Linked DNA regions of Homo sapiens: regions 2, 3 and 4 are each linked to region 1. A link means that fine-mapping ties the variant in region 1 to the expression of a gene that starts in the linked region. Tissue or cell type: whole blood. Region 1 holds a variant in brackets; each other region holds the start of a gene. Each region is shown on its reference strand, or each on the opposite one.

Evidence for each region. PIP is the estimated chance that this variant, and not a neighbour inherited with it, causes the effect.
Region 2: CTNNB1 starts here. The variant in region 1 is fine-mapped to the expression of CTNNB1 in whole blood (TOPMed, PIP above 0.99).
Region 3: it holds the start of FHIP2A, and the variant in region 1 is the best candidate, but not a certain one, in a credible set for the expression of FHIP2A in whole blood (TOPMed, PIP 0.89).
Region 4: it holds the start of MACROH2A1, and the variant in region 1 is fine-mapped to the expression of MACROH2A1 in whole blood (TOPMed, PIP 0.90).

The regions. Positions count from the first base shown.
Region 1 is chr1:158,838,550-158,843,201 of GRCh38, forward strand. It overlaps MNDA (myeloid cell nuclear differentiation antigen), which reads left to right. Exons shown (of 7, transcript NM_002432.3): 2 at 3,585-3,869. The coding sequence starts at 3,605. It also overlaps a transcript of OR6N1 not described here. Among named protein-coding and RNA genes, the nearest start is that of MNDA, 9.5 kb to the left of the region's middle. The variant C/T (reference allele first, on the strand shown) is at 1,973.
Region 2 is chr3:41,196,640-41,201,291 of GRCh38, forward strand. It overlaps CTNNB1 (catenin beta 1), which reads left to right and starts at 2,866. Exons shown (of 15, transcript NM_001904.4): 1 at 2,866-3,031. RefSeq lists silencers at 2,267-2,726, 3,157-3,276 and enhancers at 2,569-3,515, 2,857-2,916, 3,627-3,736.
Region 3 is chr10:114,819,682-114,824,333 of GRCh38, forward strand. It overlaps FHIP2A (FHF complex subunit HOOK interacting protein 2A), which reads left to right and starts at 2,099. Exons shown (of 17, transcript NM_020940.4): 1 at 2,099-2,442. The coding sequence starts at 2,398. It overlaps LOC124902508 (translation initiation factor IF-2-like), which reads right to left and starts at 3,267. Exons shown (of 2, transcript XM_047426127.1): 1 at 1,592-3,267. The coding sequence starts at 2,420. The coding sequence ends at 1,815. RefSeq lists silencers at 1,848-2,157, 2,168-2,517, 2,578-2,797 and an enhancer at 2,503-3,003.
Region 4 is chr5:135,396,753-135,401,404 of GRCh38, forward strand. It overlaps MACROH2A1 (macroH2A.1 histone), which reads right to left and starts at 2,479. Exons shown (of 9, transcript NM_138610.3): 1 at 2,310-2,479. RefSeq lists silencers at 1,815-1,874, 2,185-2,354, 2,365-2,824 and enhancers at 2,725-3,230, 3,231-3,736.

The DNA.
Region 1 (4,652 bases):
GTGTCATAGTGTAAGTTTCTTTGAGTTTATCATAGTTGCAGCTTGTTTGGTTTCTTATATCTGTACATTTAGTCTTTTCTCAAATTTGGAAAGTTTTCAGTCCTTATTTACTCAATAATTTTGTTATTCCTTTCTCTTTTCCATCACCTTTTCAGACTTACATAATGCATATATTGTCCCACTTGATGAACTTTATAAGTTCTGTTCACTTTCCTTTATATCTTTTAAAAAAGTTTGTTCTTCAGCCTTGATAATTACACATGACCTGTCTAAAAGCTAACTGATTCTTCTGCCTATTGGTGTGGGCTGAGGAACCCCTCTAGTGGATTTTACAATGCAGTCAATGTGTTTTTCAGCTTCAGAATTTATGGAATTTTTTCTGGTAATTTCTATTTTTTGTCTATTCTCATTTTTTATTAATCATTTTCCTGATTTTATTTAGTTGTCTCTACCTATTTTCCTTTAACTCATTTATCATATTTAAGAGTGCTGTTTTAGTCTTTGACAAGAAAGTCTGAGGGCTGTGTTTCTTTAGAGAAAGTTTGTGGAGATTCATTTTTTTCTTTAAAATTGACCATGTTTACCTGTTTCTTTGTATACCTTTTGTTGAAAACTGGACATTTGTAAAAACAGCCCCCTCTCAACCATTGTTAACTGGCACCATATTCAGGGGAGGACTTTCACTCTTCAGCTAAGTATGAAATATAAACGTTCTCTGAGGCCTATATGGACGTGTGTCTTGCCTGGGCTTATGTGTGTGCATTTTTTGTAATTCTCTCATATACACACTGCTTTTAATCTGTAATTTCCCTAAGAGCCACACCTGCCTCTTTTCATGACCTTAGATGTTCTACTGTATTCCTCTATCCATAATCTCTTGCCTTCTGGCACCCAGGGAGTAGCAGATCCCATGAAGCTCTCACAAGCTGGAGCACCCACCACTACTTTTTGCAGCCTCAAATCTGACATTTAAACTATGCCACCATTTCCATCAATGCTCCAAGTCATGTGAAGCAGTTACTAGTCCCTCAAGGAACCTACAGAGAAGCTATAATGTTGCAAAGCAGTTCCACACTTTTCCTTCTATTCCAAAGGAAGAATGAGGAATTAGGAAGTTTCCTCCTGATCACGTCACACCATTCAAGGGAGAAAGTTAAACAGGGACAAAGAAAAACACCTAGAAGTTTTCCACTATTTTGAATGTGGCTTAATCTTGGTTTGGAATTTCCTTTGTTGCAACCAATTCTTAACAGCTGAAAACATTAGTTTGGTTCATAAATTGTTCTTTATTTGGTGTTTCCATGGTATAATGAAAGTCTGGAACGTCCTTGTCTGCAATCTTGCTAATGTCACTCTCAGTGAGAAGAGAACAATTTTTTAAACCATAACATTCAAATAACATTTTGACCAGATACAAAATTTTAGTTTGAAAAATATTTTTGCTTGAAAACTGATTCACAGCACTTCACCTGAAACCCCTGGGACAACTCTGATTTTTAATTCATTTTTTTAGGGGGGGATTTTAGAAAGACTACTTAATGCATACATTGTATGTAGGCACTGCAAGTGTCCCAGTAGAGGTAATATCAACATCCTAATATCAAATGCATTAAGAGTTCTTCAACAAATCATGCCACTATTCACATTAAAGTGAGATGAATAAGGAAGATTAAAAATAGCCACTGTATTAGTTCCTTCTCACGCTGCTATGAAGAAATACCTGAGACTGGGTAATTTATAAAGAAAAGAGATTTGATTTACTCACAGTTCCGCACGGCTGGGGAGTCCTAAGGAAACTTACAATCATGATGGAAGGCACCTCTTCACAGGGTGGCAGGAGAGAGAATGAGTGCTAGCAGGGGAAATGCCTGATGTTTATAAAACCATAGATCTCATGAGAACTTGCTCACTATCACAAGATGATATTTCAAGATGAGATTTGGGTTGGGACATAGCCAAACCATATCAGCCA[C/T]GTATTACTTCACATTATATCTCTAATTTGCAAGATGATTTTGCTACCACACTTCCCTGCTAACTCTCATCCCTTCCCAAGCCCCCAAACCGCACAAATCTTTTCATCCTTCAGTATCTTCTTAGGTTTTAAAATTGCAGACATATAATTATGGATCAGTACTATGTAAAAATTACTTTCTTAACCTGCTGCAGACTGTTCAATCAGATTATTTAATCTTTGTAGGTGTTCTACTCAGTATTTCTGGAAGATTTTATCATTTTGCTTTTAATATTCTTTGGCTTTACTATATGTGCCCATGTGTGAAATTTCTCTTTATCTGATAGGTTTAAACACAGGAACACTCATGTTCTCCCAAAAGAGAACAATTTACAGCCCTAAGAATTTGGACACTCTAATTATATAAAAGTTGCACAAACACATGGTCACCAACCTAAAGGAATACCTATAAATTTAAACAGAAAATTGGAATATACGTTAGGAACTGAATGCCCTTAGGTAGTACACAAGGGGTTAAAGAGGCACACATAAGTGAGAGTGGGACCACAACAGCTCGCAGAAGATAAAGCCTCAATTAAGCATTAAAAACTCTAAGGAAGTATTCAGAGGAAGAAAACTGGGAATGCTTTCCCAGATAGCAGGAAGGGAATTAGCAGTAAGAAGACCTGAAAAAGAAAGACATATTGTGTATTTCTAGAGCATAAGGTATAAGAAATTCAAAAGTAACAGACACACACAAAAAGAAAGATACAGTTTATGCAAGGCCTTTCAAGTCATGCTGAGTAGAAATCTATACTAATAAAAATCAAAACTCATTGAAGGATTTCAGGAAAAATAGAGTCATGTCTTTATCCATAAAGAAACCTACTTGGTTGTCTGACAGAAACCTTTTAGTAAAAGTAAGACTAGTTGGAGGTAAATAATTGACTGTAAAAAACAAATGTGCAAAAAATAAATGCTGCAATTCCACACTAGAGAGCAGATAGGAGGATGGCAAAATGACAATTTTATAGATGCATAGGACACAGAGAACAAGTTCTAAGCCCCAGGGAGAAAAAGTGCTAACGAGAGCTGATTAGGGAGAGCCAAGAAGGACTAGAGTCCATTCCACAACTCAGAACTGTAGTGCTGTGGCAGAAGGTTATTCACATAAGGTGAGTGGCTGCAGCCCATTTATACTTAGGCCACTTTGGTCATAGTGGATGACCAGGAAGAATCAGGGAAGAATCAGGGAAGAATCAGGAACCAAGAGGTAGGCATTGAGGGATAGGCTCAGGCCCCAATAAAATATCAGAAGAGGAACCAGGGACTTTGACACCACAAAACCCATACTATAAATACTGCAACAATTACCTGTTTCCAAACATCATTTCACCACATACACCTCTGTCCCAACTTATCAACATTAAAAGGGAAGAACTTCACTGAACCTCCTAATAAAGCAAGTCTTGATCCATTGTTCACAGTGACATATCTGGTAACTTAGTCCCTTTTTCTTATACGCATCCAAGGACAACATTTTGGCCTGGGACACTCACTCACAAAAGCATATCTCATTTTTTAAAATTGTCTGCATAAATGTGTAATGTTGTGTGTCATTTTTACTTTATAGGCCAAGCTATAACATCAGAAATGGTGAATGAATACAAGAAAATTCTTTTGCTGAAAGGATTTGAGCTCATGGATGATTATCATTTTACATCAATTAAGTCCTTACTGGCCTATGATTTAGGACTAACTACAAAAATGCAAGAGGAATACAACAGAATTAAGATTACAGATTTGATGGAAAAAAAGTTCCAAGGCGTTGCCTGTCTAGACAAACTAATAGAACTTGCCAAAGATATGCCATCACTTAAAAACCTTGTTAACAATCTTCGAAAAGAGAAGTCAAAAGGTAATAGAGAAAACCTTGCACATAGCTACTCTGCCTTGAGTCTCCCCAGTCTTCAGTAGAACCCCACCTTGGTCATAGCTGGTACATCCCTTTTCCAATTTATAACTCAGCAGTCATGGGGATGTTGGCACCTCAGAGACTGACCAGTTGGCAATTTAGAACATTCTGTTTCATATGAAAGAGATTGATATATTTAGAAGAATGTATTTGAGGTAAGGATAAAAAACCAAAGACAGGGATTTATGAGACGGTGAGTGTTTCAGTAAATCAAAAATGTCAGAAAATGAAAAAAAAAGCTACTTTAAAAAATGTGTTTTATTTGAAATATTTATATTTAACCAATTTATGCAGCAATAGTTCTATTAAGAGACGTGTAGAATTTTTCCACTTAATAAATCACTGTTCTTTTTTTAATTCAAAAGCCAATATTAGCACTTTGCCACATTACAATTCAGATCATATTTCCTTTCAGGTCATATTTCTGTCATTTGAACAGATATTGCACAGAACATGACCAGCCTGTCAGCATCATGAAAGCCTTAGATATTTAAAAGAAATGGTAGGAGAACAAGACTGAGAAAGGGTTGATTGAGGCACATGGAGTTCACAGGAAAGGAAGCATGTTCTCACTGCAAAGGGGAGGAGTGAGTAAAGCACTGAGGAGAATGAGACAGTGCCTATGCCTACCATGCTGCTGTTGGCCTCCTAGGAGCCAGGCTGGGTTAATGCAGTAGAGGTAACAGGCAAATCCGAACTCTCATGCAGGAGCTGACAGCAGGTAAT
Region 2 (4,652 bases), not on the chromosome of region 1:
AAATGGAGCCAGTCATCCGTTTCCCTCTCTCTAAGGGAAGCTCATTGTCTTAGATGCTCAATAAATGTTTAATTAATGGATTTGATAGAGTTAAGTATCCTAAAAGTGAACGAACCTTCTTTACAATACTGGCATATTTCTGTGATTCATATTTCTGTCTGAAGTGTGAAATAATCTTGGCTTTTTTTTTTTTTTTTCCTCTCTTAAAGGTAATCAAAAGCCTCTGTTTTAGCGAAGGGATGCCTTACATTCAGGTTCAGTCTACCACTGCTTTATATGCCAGTGGCCTGATAGCGTGAAAAGAAATATCTTCTCTTTTAAACTAGCTGGAGACACTTTTGTTTCTAAGAACACAGCCTAAAAATTAGAACCACTTGTCTGTCGCCATTTTATAAAATTAATTTATGTCAAACCCGGGGTGACTGGCTCTAGAAGGAAAAGACATAAAACAGATAACCAACTGTTTTTATGAAATGTATTGTCCAAGGTCAATTCAAAAAAATTATTTAACAAAATTACTTATTTTACCAAACTCATGTATCTTGATAATGTATTTTTCTTTGATTTAATGATAGTGTTTGTCTTCATTTCACAGAAGTTATTCATCTCTTATTTTTGGTGAGACAACTAGAACAATTTCTGCTTTATGAAACATGCAAATAAAAATTAGGAGCAATGTTAAATTTAACTAACTTGGTTTAATGCTAGTCAACCAGTAATTCTTCAGTACACTTAATATGATGGGAAAAACAGCATGCTGCATTGTTGCAAATTTTACATTTTCTTTAATAAAATGTATTTGTTTACGGTGTCAGTAGGGATTAAAAATCATAATTCTAAATTTAAAGTATTTAAATTATAGAAAAATGATTCCATTATTTTGGTAATGGAACAGAGAAATACAAATATAGAAACGTTTTTATCCTTTAGATCTTCTAATGGTGCAGATATTTCTTAACCAATTTCAAGAGTGCCTTATTCAAAAACAAAAAACCTGCACATAGAAAAAGCAAACATGTTTTTTTAAAAAAAGCCCTGTAAAAGTGGTTAATCTGTCGTCTGATTTTCAATGTATGACTTTAATCAATTGCATATTCCTTAATTCTGCAAATGACAATTAAAATTAGGAATCAGTACCTGAAAACGCCATTTATACTTTTGAGTTTATATTAGAAACACGGTTTTGATGAAATACCTTTTTCGGTTCAATCTTTTTGAATTGTGACCACAACCAATAGCTACACTTAGATTCTACAGAATTAGTAGGAAAGATACAAATGAGAAGGTCTTTCTAGACAATGGATCTCACTGAACATCATCTTAGTGTGTAGACTTTTTCCACTGCAGTGGCCCACATGTGCTATGGTGACAGACGGCAGTTGGCATTACCACTTATATAGTAAAATATCTTTAAGACAAAAATAAAAGTTATTTAAAGAATACGCTGGCCCTGAAACATGAGCTGTGCCTTAAACTACATATCCTACCTCCATGAGTGAATGAATAAGTGGGTTTTCCGCCTGCATCTATGTGTTAAGACCTATTGTTTGCTTGTATTAATTGTAGTCCTGGGATAAAAGCACAGAGGTAACTTTCACTGCTGCTTTTTGTACTCTCTCCAATGTTTTGGAGGAAAAATAAGCACAAACAATAGCCTAGAGAAACTGAATCGATCATACTTGTTGCAGCTTCGACAAACGTCAATTTTGCTGCATTAGAATGGGAAACATTTTTCAGTCTATTGAAATGAATTACAAACGTTTTTAAATAGAAAATTAGTTAAAAAATTGGAGGCTGCTTAATCGATAGCTTTCTCTATAAACATACTTGGATTTCACAAATAAGTAATACCGTAAAAATCTTCTTCTCCAAAGAAAAATCCCCACAAATAAATCTATTGATACCTAGTGACAAGTGGAACCAGATAAAAATGGAATCTATAAGAATTAACCTAATTGACAGCGCTCTGGAGCTAATCCATTTCCATTAGTTATTTGTTCACAGTAGGTACTCCTAAGGACTTGTTGAATTGCGGGCTTGGCGCCCGTTCTACGGAGAGTTCACAGCCTTCGTGAGTGGGGACAGAAGGCGGCTCGGCCCGGTGATTCAGGTCGAAATTCAAGCTGAACAGCCTGCTGAGAGGTGGGATCCACCATCCGGACAGTGGGGGGCTTTGGGGGTGCTGTGAGACTGGGCTGCGACCCAGGTCCAGCAGGGAGTGTGCGGCACAGACCACAAGGTCGGCGAGGCCCCCTAACCCGCGCCCGGCCGGGAACCCGCAGACCAGCGACGGGGCAGCTGCGGGGCCAGGAGCGCCCCAAGACGGGCGGGCGCTGAACCCGAGCCCCTGCCGCCGCCCTGGCCCCGAACTTCCGCCCTCCCAGGACCTGTCCCGGCCGCCCCGAGCGGTACTCGAAGGCCGGGGCCGAGATGCCACCTTCCGCAGGCCGCGGGAAAGGCGCGCCGAGTCCTGCAGCTGCTCTCCCGGTTCGGGAAACGCGCGGGGCGGGGGCGTCGGGCTTGGGACAGGGGAGGATACCAGGGCCACCTTCCCCAACCCAGGCCGCGGGGGCCCGGCCTCCCCGATGCAGACCACAGCGCCCTCACGGGCTGCCCTCAGGCCGCGCAGCGGGCAGCCGCCAGCCGTCACCCCGGGGAGCGTCCGTGGGGTGCCCAGGCACCCCACCCCGGCCCGGGGCGCTCAGACGGCAGCAGACTGCTGGGCGGCGCGGGGACTACTTTCCACCGCCCCCTCGCGCCCCGCCCCTTGTCCTCGCGCGGCGGAACGCTCCGCGCTGCGCCGGTGGCGGCAGGATACAGCGGCTTCTGCGCGACTTATAAGAGCTCCTTGTGCGGCGCCATTTTAAGCCTCTCGGTCTGTGGCAGCAGCGTTGGCCCGGCCCCGGGAGCGGAGAGCGAGGGGAGGCGGAGACGGAGGAAGGTCTGAGGAGCAGCTTCAGTCCCCGCCGAGCCGCCACCGCAGGTCGAGGACGGTCGGACTCCCGCGGCGGGAGGAGCCTGTTCCCCTGAGGTGCTTGGGCGCTCCTTTCCTTATCCTTCCGGGGCTGCTCCCGCTTCCTCTCGGAGCCAAACTTCGTAGCAGGCGCGCGGTCCGGGCGGCGGGCTGGGCGCAGCCGGGAGGCCTGGGGTTGGGAGCGGGGAGCTCAGGTGGGGGACGGTGAGGGTGGGCCGCGCCCGGGGCGCGGAGGGCGGCGGCCGGGCCCGGGTTCCGGTCGCGCTGCCTCTCTGGGGCCCTGGGGGCATCGCTTGCGGGGAGGGGGCGCCGCGGGGGCGCGTACAGGAGCCCGGATGGCAGGCGGGGTGGGGGTGGGGGTGGGGGTCTGTGGTTTCCGTCCGGGGCTCTGGCCTTGGCCGAGTTTGGGGGAGGGACCCGGTGCCTCGGGATGCGCCGGGCCCTGGGTGGGGGGCGGGGTGGGGACGGGGGGCTCCGCCTTCTCAGCTCTTGCGGCGAGTTGGGGTTCGGGCGCTGAGGCAGAGACGCCACCCTAAGTCCCATCAGTCCTGGGGATCGGACCAGTGGACTTTCTCTTAAGATTTCCTCTTTCATTCTTAAGAATAGAAGTGTTATTATTTTTTTTAATGCCCTGGCTATGTGAGTTTGAATCGAAGCAACTTTAAACCTTAGAGCAACTAAACTCTAAGTGCAGCGGGTGCGATGCGTCAGTAGGGTGAGCACATAAAAAATCCATGTCTTGCACCTGTATTTTAGCGTACTATGCAGGTGAGTGAAAGCAGTGGATAATGTACTGGGAGTCTTATGGATTTATGGTAGTGGGTATGAGACCCTGGTGAAATAAGGGGGTGGAGGAAGGCGAAGGTGATGGCTTACTGTTTCTTACCAAGTGAACTGCAGGATTCAGCCTCTGACTCAGACCGCTTCGAGAATTTTGTTCGTAGAAATAATTTAAATTTATTCAAATAGTTTGATGGCAGCTAAAATTGAATTATAGAGCACGTTTTCTTTTCAGCGGAGTGAATTTTTCCTTCGCTCCAAAGCTGGCCAAATGGAATTCAAGCATTGCAACTTCTTTCAGTGTTTTGTCTGGAGAGAGGACTTTGAACCGAGACTTTTCGAAGTTAAGTTCCTATAGCCTGCTTCTGAATCTGCCAAGCTTGAAAGCTTTGGCAGTTGGGTGTATGTAGTTGTTGCCTTCGTTCTCTTCCCTTTTGGAGGGAGCGTTGTCTCCTACTTTGTATCTTCCAGACATCTGTGGTCTTCCCCCCACCCCTCGAGTTTGTGAGTGGTGAATGAAGAAAGACTAGGCTGCTGGTATGCAGAGGTCGGCAAAAGGAAATCGAGGAGTGGTTTTAGTGAAATGAGAGCTTTGTATCATGAATAATGGTGGCTTAGGCTAGACATCAACTTGAAGAGACGGCAGCATTTCCTTTCATAAAGTCTAGGCTAATGTTTTTCAGATCGCTAAGTTGTAGTTTGTCTGGAATTTAGGAAGCCATTTCAGTATTTGTCACTTGGTGAACGAACATTCAATACCTTCAGATGTCTTCGTGTTGACTTGTATTCATCCTAAGAAATAGTAAATATAGTCTCAAGTGTTATTTATGTTATACTGCTGGTTTATTCTCTGCTTAAATTATTGACATAAATTTCTACTTTGGAGGCTTTTCGTTTG
Region 3 (4,652 bases), not on the chromosome of region 1:
TCATCAAATACACACAACTCTAACTAAGACCTCCTCATACAATTAGTGGTTGTAAGGCATTTTGGAACTACAAAATGCCATATAAATGCATGATAATTAGATCATGAAACTAATTATGGTTAATAATATGACTAACCATCTTAAACTGTGTATGAATATAATAACAATAAGCATACATACATGCTCTCAGTTGAAGCAGACACGGCCAGAATTTGGTAAGGGGCACAAAACAACAGAGGATGCCTCCAGCATTCTGGGGGTAGTACGTAGAAAATTAAGGTCGTATTTATCTGCCAAGGAGCACCGCAGGGATATAAACCACAAAAACAGGAGGGAAAAGAAGCCCAGTTAAGATCTCCTCCTTAATTCCTGATTTCTGGCCCTATTATTTTGCTAAATACCACTACCACAACTCAGAACAAGTATAAGTGTCTGTGCATCTCTTACTAGGGACTGGGCACTGTTAAAGTGTTTTACATATATTAATTAATTCCCACAACAACCTCAAGAGGTAGGTACTGTTCTCCCCTTTTGACATATAAGCAAATTAAAACACAAAGAAGTTAAATAACTTTCCACTGTGGGTGGCAGAGCTGGGACTTAGGCTACCCAGCCCCAGAGCCTGGCCAGTTACCACCACTCCATATGACAGCCACCTTTTCTCTGTTCCATGAATCAATTACAGATATATATACGTGTGTGTGTGTATACATGTATATATACGTATGTGTATATATACGTTTGTGTATGTATAAACGTATGTGTGTGTATACATGTATGTGTGTGTGTGTGTGTGTGTGTGTGTGTGTGTGTGTGTATTTTTTTTTTTTTTTTTGAGATGGAGTTTTGCTCTTGTTGTCCAGGCTGGAGCGCAATGGCGCAACCTTGGCTCACTGCAACTTCCGCCTCCCGAGTTCAAGGATTCTCCTGCCTCAGCCTCCCAAGTAGCTGGGATTACAAGCATGTAATCCCATTACACCACCACGTTCGGCTAATTTTTTTTTTTTTTTTTTTTTTGTATTTTTAATAGAGACGGAGTTTCACCATGTTGGCCAGGCTGGTCTCGAACTCCTGGCCTCAAGTGATCCTCCCGCCTTTGCCTCCCAGAGTGCTGAGATTACAGGCGTGAGCCACCGCGCCTGGGCCAGATACGTATTTTCAGCACTGGTTGTGCAAAACTCACTCCCCACCTCATCTTAAGAACTTAATGAACCTTTTGGTAAAACGCCAATACCAGCATAAAACAAATTTCTTCAGGATACAAATATTTTCATAATTTGTATTAACTCAACCTAAACTTTACCAGCCTGAACTGCTTCTTCAAGGCTTGACTAATACACTGTTAGGGAGTATTTTAAGCAGCCTCCACCCAAGTGCTTACCTTGTAGCTCTATTTATCTGCCTTAGGCATTTACTGGACTCCTTTCAGATTCTTTCCCTCGCTAATGTTTTCCGGTATCATCTGATAACTGAATAGAAAATGCTGTTCTGAATCACTACACCTCACTATCAACCATATCACAAATAAATTATGTTATATATTATATATAAATATTATAATGGGCTATTTAAACTAAGCCAGCCGTCTTACCATGTGCTCATGTGGGATTTCCTGTTTCAATGTTGAATAATAATATATTTTAAAGTTAGCAAAGCCATTTCACCTGCAGTCGTTGATTTCTTCAAAATCTGAGCATTTAAATCCATTGCCAATGTTTGCTTAAAGAACACTGTTTTCTTAACGAGTCTTCCAAATCGGTCCTTACAGGAAGAACCTCTGAATGCTATACGCATATATGGACGGCTGCGTGTCCCTACAAAGTCAGCCTGTTACTTCCACTGGAGAAACAAAACTCTTGAGAATCGCTGAGCTGTAAAAATGTTAGAAAGCCGGTGTCCCAGGCGCCCTGAGAAAGCCGGGAGAGGGCGGTGGCTGCCCACAGGCCGCCTCCAGCCCCGCGCGAGGCCGAGGCCTCAGCGCGCCCCCCGCCCCCGCGGCGCCTAGCGGCCCCGCCGCAGGGCAGGCCTGGCCGGGCCTCCCCGGGCTGCGGCGGCGCCCCCTGCAGGCCGCGGCGGGCAGAGCGGGGGGAAGGAACCCGAGCCGGGCTGCCACCGTGTCCCAACCGGTGCCGCCGCCGGAGCTTCTCCGGGCCCCGAGTCCTCGCCGAACGCCCTCCTCGCCGCCCGCCGCGTCCCGGCGCCCTCCGGAGCCGCCGAGCCGCCCGCGCACACCTGAAGCGGCCGGGCCAGGCCCTGCCTCGATCCTCAGCTCGTCCTCCCCGCCCCGCACCGGCCTTCACTCTGGAGCGGCCCCGGCAGCCGCAGCAGGGGCGGCGGCGGCGGATCGAGGAGCTCTCCAGGTCGTCCCGGGAGAGGCTGCTGCAGTCCCGGGACAGGATGTTCTCCAAGTTCACCTCCATCCTGCAGCACGCCGTGGAGGCGGTAAGGCCGCGGGCTGCGGGCGCACGGCAGGCCGGGGATGGCGGCGGCCTACGCTCCCCGGCGGCCTCGGGGACAAGCCGGGCGGCCTTGGCCCGGCCCTCGGCGGCCCTGTCCCCGGTTGGGGTGAGGCCCCAGGCGGGCGCCCTGGGCGGCCGCCGGGTCGTGGGGGCGCCCGGGGCCTCGGGCCTGGCTCTGCGGGGGTCCCGTCGGTCCCTGGCTGCCCCAGGCCGGCAGTCCCTGCCCTCCTCCAGGAGCCGGGGCGGGGGTGCCGGGGAGGACCTGGCCGCCCAACGCCGCTCGGTGGTCGCCTCATTCCTCTGATGGGGCCGGGGGTTCGGGGAGCACCTGGCGGGGTCGCAGAGAGCTCCCCCGGGCTCCCTTAACGTTAACCTTCTCCGGAAAAAAAGTGGTCAGCGTTGAGCAAGACAAAAGAAACGAGCAAGCACCGCTTGGGCTTGGTTCTGTTTTGTTTTGGTTTTCGGGGGTAGAGGTGGGAGAGGCATGGTCTCGCTGTGGGGCGTCCCTGGCGAGGGAGCCGCCGACCAGCCCCCGGGTTGCTGGCTTTTGCTTTCTTGGGCCTGGAGGCCGAACTCAGCTGAACCTTATGTATTGATCTGAAATAGGAGTTTGGAGGGTCCAGTCGAGTTTGCTTTCGACAGCTTCCAAGCTCACCGAGCCCAGAGACCATCTGTTTCCTTTCTTGTCTAGTTCTCTTCCTGGACACTCTTCGTTTATCCTGCAATTGTACTCTCCTTTGAGGGTTTTAGACACCAGCATAGAGACAGTATTCAAGTATCCTAGTAGACTAATAAGTGAAAAGAAACTAAAAAGAAAATGCCTTGTCACTGTTCTAGTAAGAATGCTAGTTGCTTCACTTGTTTACTTTATTCTGGGAGAACTGCCCAAATTGAAAAATGCATTCTGTGCAGAAACAATTACTTTGCTAATTTTTAACATGACATTCTCTTCCTATGTTCATATTATGTGATAGGACACTTTAAAATGTACACTTTAAAAATGTCAGATACAACAATGATTTTTTATGGGCAGGCAAAAATGGAGTTTTTGCCTTCAGTAATAAAAACAAACTTTAGTACAATTGTTATTTAAGTGATACATGAGAAGCGTTAAAAAATTTAGCTCTAGGGCAAGCTCTTGGGAAAATGTATCAAACAGGAAAAACAGGGTTTCATAAATGTAGAGCAGTATTACACGGAGGGAAATGACAGTGGTAGACTTCAAGACAACTTTTAGTTTTTACTTGCTTATACACACTCTACTTTTGTTGAAAGAATTTAACTGCAGTTTATTAAAACATTTAAATTTTGTTTTCTTTAAAAATACCAAGAATCATTTAATTTTATTTATTTATTTATTTATTTATTTTTTGAGACCGAATCTCATTCTGTCACCCAGGTTGGAGTGCAGGGGTGTGATCTCAGGTCACTGCAACCTCCGCCTCCCGGATTCAAGCGATTCTCCTGCCTCAGCCTCCCTAGTAGCTGGGATTACAGGCACCCGCCACCACACACGGCTAATTTTTTTTTTTTTTTTTAGTAGAGATGGGGTTTCACCATGTTAGCCAGGCTGCTCTCGAACTCCTGACCTCAAGTGATCGCCCGCCTTGGCCTCCCAAAGTGCTGGGATTACAGGTGTGAGCCACCACACCCGGCCCGAATCATTTTAACCTTGAATATATGAAATACTTGGGAACACTTAATGAGATACTTGGTAATCAAAATTTACTATATTGCAGTCAGCTGTCTTATCCGTAGGCTCTGCACCTGTGATTTAACCAAACTCAAGTAAAAAAATATTTGAGGGGGAAAAAAATTCTGCAGAGTTCCAAAAAGCAAAACTTGAATTTGCCATATTCAAGTACTGCCTTGAATCCATGTGAATGAAGTGATGTGTAGGCATTGTATTAGGTATTAGAAGCAATCTAGAGATGATTTAAAGAATACAGGTATGCATAGGTTATATGAAAATATGCCATTTTATAACAGGGACTTGAACATCCTCAGATCTTAGGGGTAGGAAGAGATGTCCTGGAACTAGTCCCCTACAGATACCAACTATATTTATATCCTTTACCCATCAGGCTAGTATTTACAGAAATAAGTACTTAGAAAAAGAAAGACGGCTTTCCTGCTCTCCTAGTAAAGGCTCATTTTTATCCGGAGGCCTGTGTTTTCTTGTCCTCGTTATCT
Region 4 (4,652 bases), not on the chromosome of region 1:
ATTTCTTAATCACGGCTGTGTCCCCAGTGCCTGAACAGGAGCTGATTCTCAGGAAATCTTTATGGAAAGACTCTGAGACACTGACCTGACAGGTTTGGTCCAAGCAAACAAGCTATACAACTCTTTGGAATGAAGAGTTGACTCACTCAGGCTCACTTGTAAGCACTGAGGCAGGGCCCAAAAGACCTCTAAACCTACAGAATATGGGAAGGACCCACAGAGATCTGGGCCCCAATCACTCCTGCCCCTTCCCAGCCCATGTTCTAGGAATGGGGCTCTGAAAAGGCTGTCACAAATCCTTGGGGACACTCAAATAAAACCAGAGGCTGTTGCAGTTCTGATGAACAACACATATAGAGTCTTGTTGGGTTCTTCGGCTTGAGGTTTTCAGTTTATGCTTTTATTTAAATAAATCTCCTTTAGGTGACTTGGGGCCGCATTAGCTCTGAAGGCAGGTCCCAGAACACATGCCCTCTGAGCTTCTCAGTGGGGAAGGAATGCGAGGCGCTCCTCAAGTTCGCCTCTCTCAGGGACCAGAAGAAACATCAGATGGAGATGTGTCACTCCCTGACACTGGCCCATTTGGTAAAAACTAAACCAGTGGCATGGTTGTATACTAGAATGTCACATGTGAAGTTCCAGACAATTCTTAAAGTTTAATAAAATGTGAGTTAAATTATGCCTCCTTCTAAAGGCCTGCCTCAAACAATTTTCATTTAGACAACCCTCTTAATGCCTTATCTAGGGATCAGCATTAACAATGGTGACAGATCGAAGCCAAAGAACAGACTGGAAAGATTTCTCTCTCCTTGTAAAACTAGAAGGGGGAAGAATTTGAAGTCTTTCAAGAGTTTTGTTGTGTTTAAGAAAAAATAAGTTTGAAAACATACTCATCCTCATCAGAGAGTCTCTTGTGCAAGACTGAGATGCTGCTGCCCAACTCTAGTTAAATGTGTACAATGGGTATTAATTCCAGTTGCAGGCAAGAGGTGTCCATTTCAGAGTTAACACCTCTGACAACAGGCTAGTAGCCTAAAGGTGGCCTGCAGTAGGTGAATTCCACCTAATTTACAACTCGAGTCTCCCATTCAAACCTAAGACTGTTAAAAAATGCCCGACTCCCTGGAGCAGGGAGCTTTGGAACAAAACACTTCCCTTACCCCCTACTTTAACGGTAAAACCTCAAACCACAAAGGTGGAAGAAAAGAGGGAAGCTAGCAGGAGTGCCCCCTCTAATTGTCTATTCTTATGTGCTGTTTACTGGGTCATTAAAATCTTACAAGGCCTTTATAGTCATTGTAATTGTTGAATTCAAGGTTTGTCCCAGTTGTTTGTACAGAAGTCTCTCACTTTGAAACTCAGAAACATTTCCCCTAACATCTTGTCTAAAAGAACCTTTCAAGCAATGTACTGACCAACTCCTTGAGTGATCTGTGGCCCCTGCAGGAGTGGGGGTAGGGAGCGCCATGTCGCACACCTGTTGTCAGGTGACACTGCCAGCAGCATCCTGCACACTCACCTCCCCACTCCACCCCACCCCCAGCGAGGCTCTTTCCTGCTGGCCTTCTCCACCCGGGGAAGCCTACAGCCTTCCGGAGTTACCTTTTAAAAAAAGCAAACCCTTCCTACCACAAAGCAAACAAAAGGCTGATACCGAGACAATCGGGAGCAGCGGGGGTTCCCGTGGCCCCTCTCCAGCCCATCCTTGGACCACTCCCCAACCCGGTCCCCCGCACCAGCCCGGCTTCAATCCCGCGAGTAGCCCCCGCCTTCCCCTCCCTGCAGATAGCGAGCCAGACGCCTACACCTCGGCCCCCCGGGGCTCGGGCCCGACTTATTGTGCCGGGGCCGGCAACTCGCGGGCCGGCGGGGGCCTCACCAAGTACAACTCTGCTCACAGCAGCTCCCGGGTGCCCAGGCCCAGACTGCCTAGCCAGCGCCGCGGGGCCTCCTGCGGCCTCGGGCCTGGCCCGTGAGCCCGCCCCAGGAAGGGTCGCCAGGGTAGGCGCCAGCACCGCTTTTTTCCCACAAAAGCGCCCAGGCGCGGGCAGGGGGATGCGTTTCGAAGAGAAGTTGGTTTCCAGGTTTCTTTTTTGAACAAAACCAAAGGGAATCCCGCGCGGCCCGACAAGGCCTGGGAGGACGTAGTGCACGCGCGAGGACCCGGCGTGGGCCACACCGAACCCGGCGGCCCGAGCCCGGCCCGCACCACACCGGTGCGCGCCAGGCCGGGCCGCTCCCGGGCACCCGCGGCCGGACCCGAGCGGCGGGGACAGGGAGTGCGGCAAGGGGGCCCGCGCGGCACTTACGCGGCGGCTCGGTGGCGGCGGCGGCAGCTGCAAGGTGTCTCGGCCTGAGCCCTCCTGGCCGCTCGCGCCTTTTCTCTCCGCGCTCCTCGCTGGCCCGCCCGCCTCTTCGCTTCCCGCCCGCGCGGCCCGCGCTCTCCCCCTCCGCCCGGCGCCGCTGCCGAGTGAACTGGAACCAGTCCTCGCGGCCGGCTTCCCACAATGCACAGCGCGCCGCTCGTCACATCCCTTCGCGGCCCCGAGCGTCCGGCCTCCGCGCCCGTGCCGCCCGGCGCCCCGGCCTTGACCCCGGGCCCGCGCCCTACCCGTTGACGCCGGCCGCTCTGCGCCCAGGCACCAGCCCGCACCCCGGACGCGAGGTCTGACCCATGACCCCGGGGACGCCCAGAGCCCAGTCCTTGGGAAGGGCCAGGCCCCTGGAGAGGAGCTTCTTCAGGGCGCGTCCCAGACTCTGCGTCTCGAGTGAACGCCTACTGTGTGCCTGGCTCTGAGCACGGGACTGTCGCTGCCACGGCATCTTTAGGAACCTTCCCACTAACCCAGTGGGAAGGCACAATGGCTGTTACCAGCGATCGCTCTTCCCTCCCCAGTCAATGCCAACTCCCCCCTGCCCCGCCTCAGAGACCCCGCTGTCTTTAGATACAGGCCACCGCCAAGCCCTGGTCTGCCCCAAGATCAATTACTGCGCACCCGGTTCCCCTGGGGTCCTTCAGTTAATCCTCCTCACCCCGAAGTCTGGAACCTGCCTTGCACATGGAAGCGGTTAGCTACTTCGCTTCAGCAAAAGTTCACTTTCGGACCCAAGTTGGGAATTACTAATGTAGACAGTGATTCCTTATCATCACACACGTTTTTTAAAAACTGCGGACAGGCCGAAAGAGGAGGAGCCGCCACAAAGCCCGCCACGTCTTCCTAAATTGGTTTACCGCCTGAAGGCATTGGTGCCCCATCCCGGGTACTTAAATGGGGGCCTGCCCTCTACTCCCCTCCCTCCAAAGTGTGGAGCCGGAAGCCACTTCTCCATCCAGCTGTGAACTAAATTTGGATAATAATACACATCCCTCAGGGTTGATGTGAAGTTTAAAGTGCCGCTACTGGGGATTATGGAGGTAATTAGAGACCCCCACCCCCACCCCCCAGTCCTCAGGCTGCGCGGGAATCGCAGCGGCAGTAACCTCCACCTCACCGGGATGCTTTACACCTTACTTTAAGAGTTTGCAAAACAATGTCCAATACCTGCCATTCATGCATTCGTTAATTCGATTAAGTACTGAGAACGTATTTTGTGTCATACATCGATTTGGGTGCTGGATATGAAACAGCCAAGAGAACAGGCAGAAATCTCTGCCCTCCTGTAGTTTGCAGTCTCGTGGGGGAAAGACAGACAAACGGGAGAATGTGTCAGAGGGTCTCCATGGGGTGGAGAAAAATAAGGCGGAGAAGGGGAATAGGAAGTGTGAGATAAGAGTGAGGCTCAAATACAAGAGAAGGCCTCTATGAGAAAGTAACATTTAAAGCCTGAAGAAATTGAGGGAGCAAGCCGTGTGGATGTCTGGGGAAGAACTGCGCCGAGCATGAGGAATAGCAAGTGCAAAGGCTGGGGTAGGAGTGTGTCCAAAATAGTCAAGACAGAGCGAGTGTGAGGTTGGAGTAGAATGGGTGAAGGGGAAAGTAACAGGAGATGAAGCTGGAAAAATGATGATGCTTATGATGCTTCTGGTCCCAAAACAAAGCATTATGGTTCTATGAGGATCTCCCGAAGAAAAGATGTCAGGAAAGGTGCAGAGACCCTCCCCCACACACCACATTGTTGTTCCATCCTTCTCTGTGCCTTTGGGCAAGGACTCTCCGTTCTGTAGGGACCACCAGGTGGAATTAAAGTCTACACTCCTCCAAGAGCTGATCTTGGGGCGGCCCCACCTCCATGCCCCTCTACAGCGTGCCATTCTCATAGAACACACTAGGACCTTTGTCCTCTGGAGCTGTTCAGTGCAGCAGCTCTGACCTCATCCTTCTCCAGAAGCCTCCACCTTCTCTCCCCTCTCTCCTCCTGCGCTTTGTGTGTCCTGTTCTTCCACTTCGGTGACCTGTCTCCTCCCCTAATCTGGCTCAGAGAGGGGTACCAGCTGCTGCTGCTGCTATTGCTTCTTCTTCTGTTAAAGGTTTTTTATTTTTTTCCAATGACAAAGCTATGCTCATTCTGAAAACATGAAAAATAAAAATGCTCAAAAAATAAAACTCACTCTACATTCATTGCTAGGAGAGAACAGCCTGCTCCCATTCCAGCCTTTTTATCTATATCCACTTAACATTAAACATACAGAGTTTCTACTCTATTTAGTGATT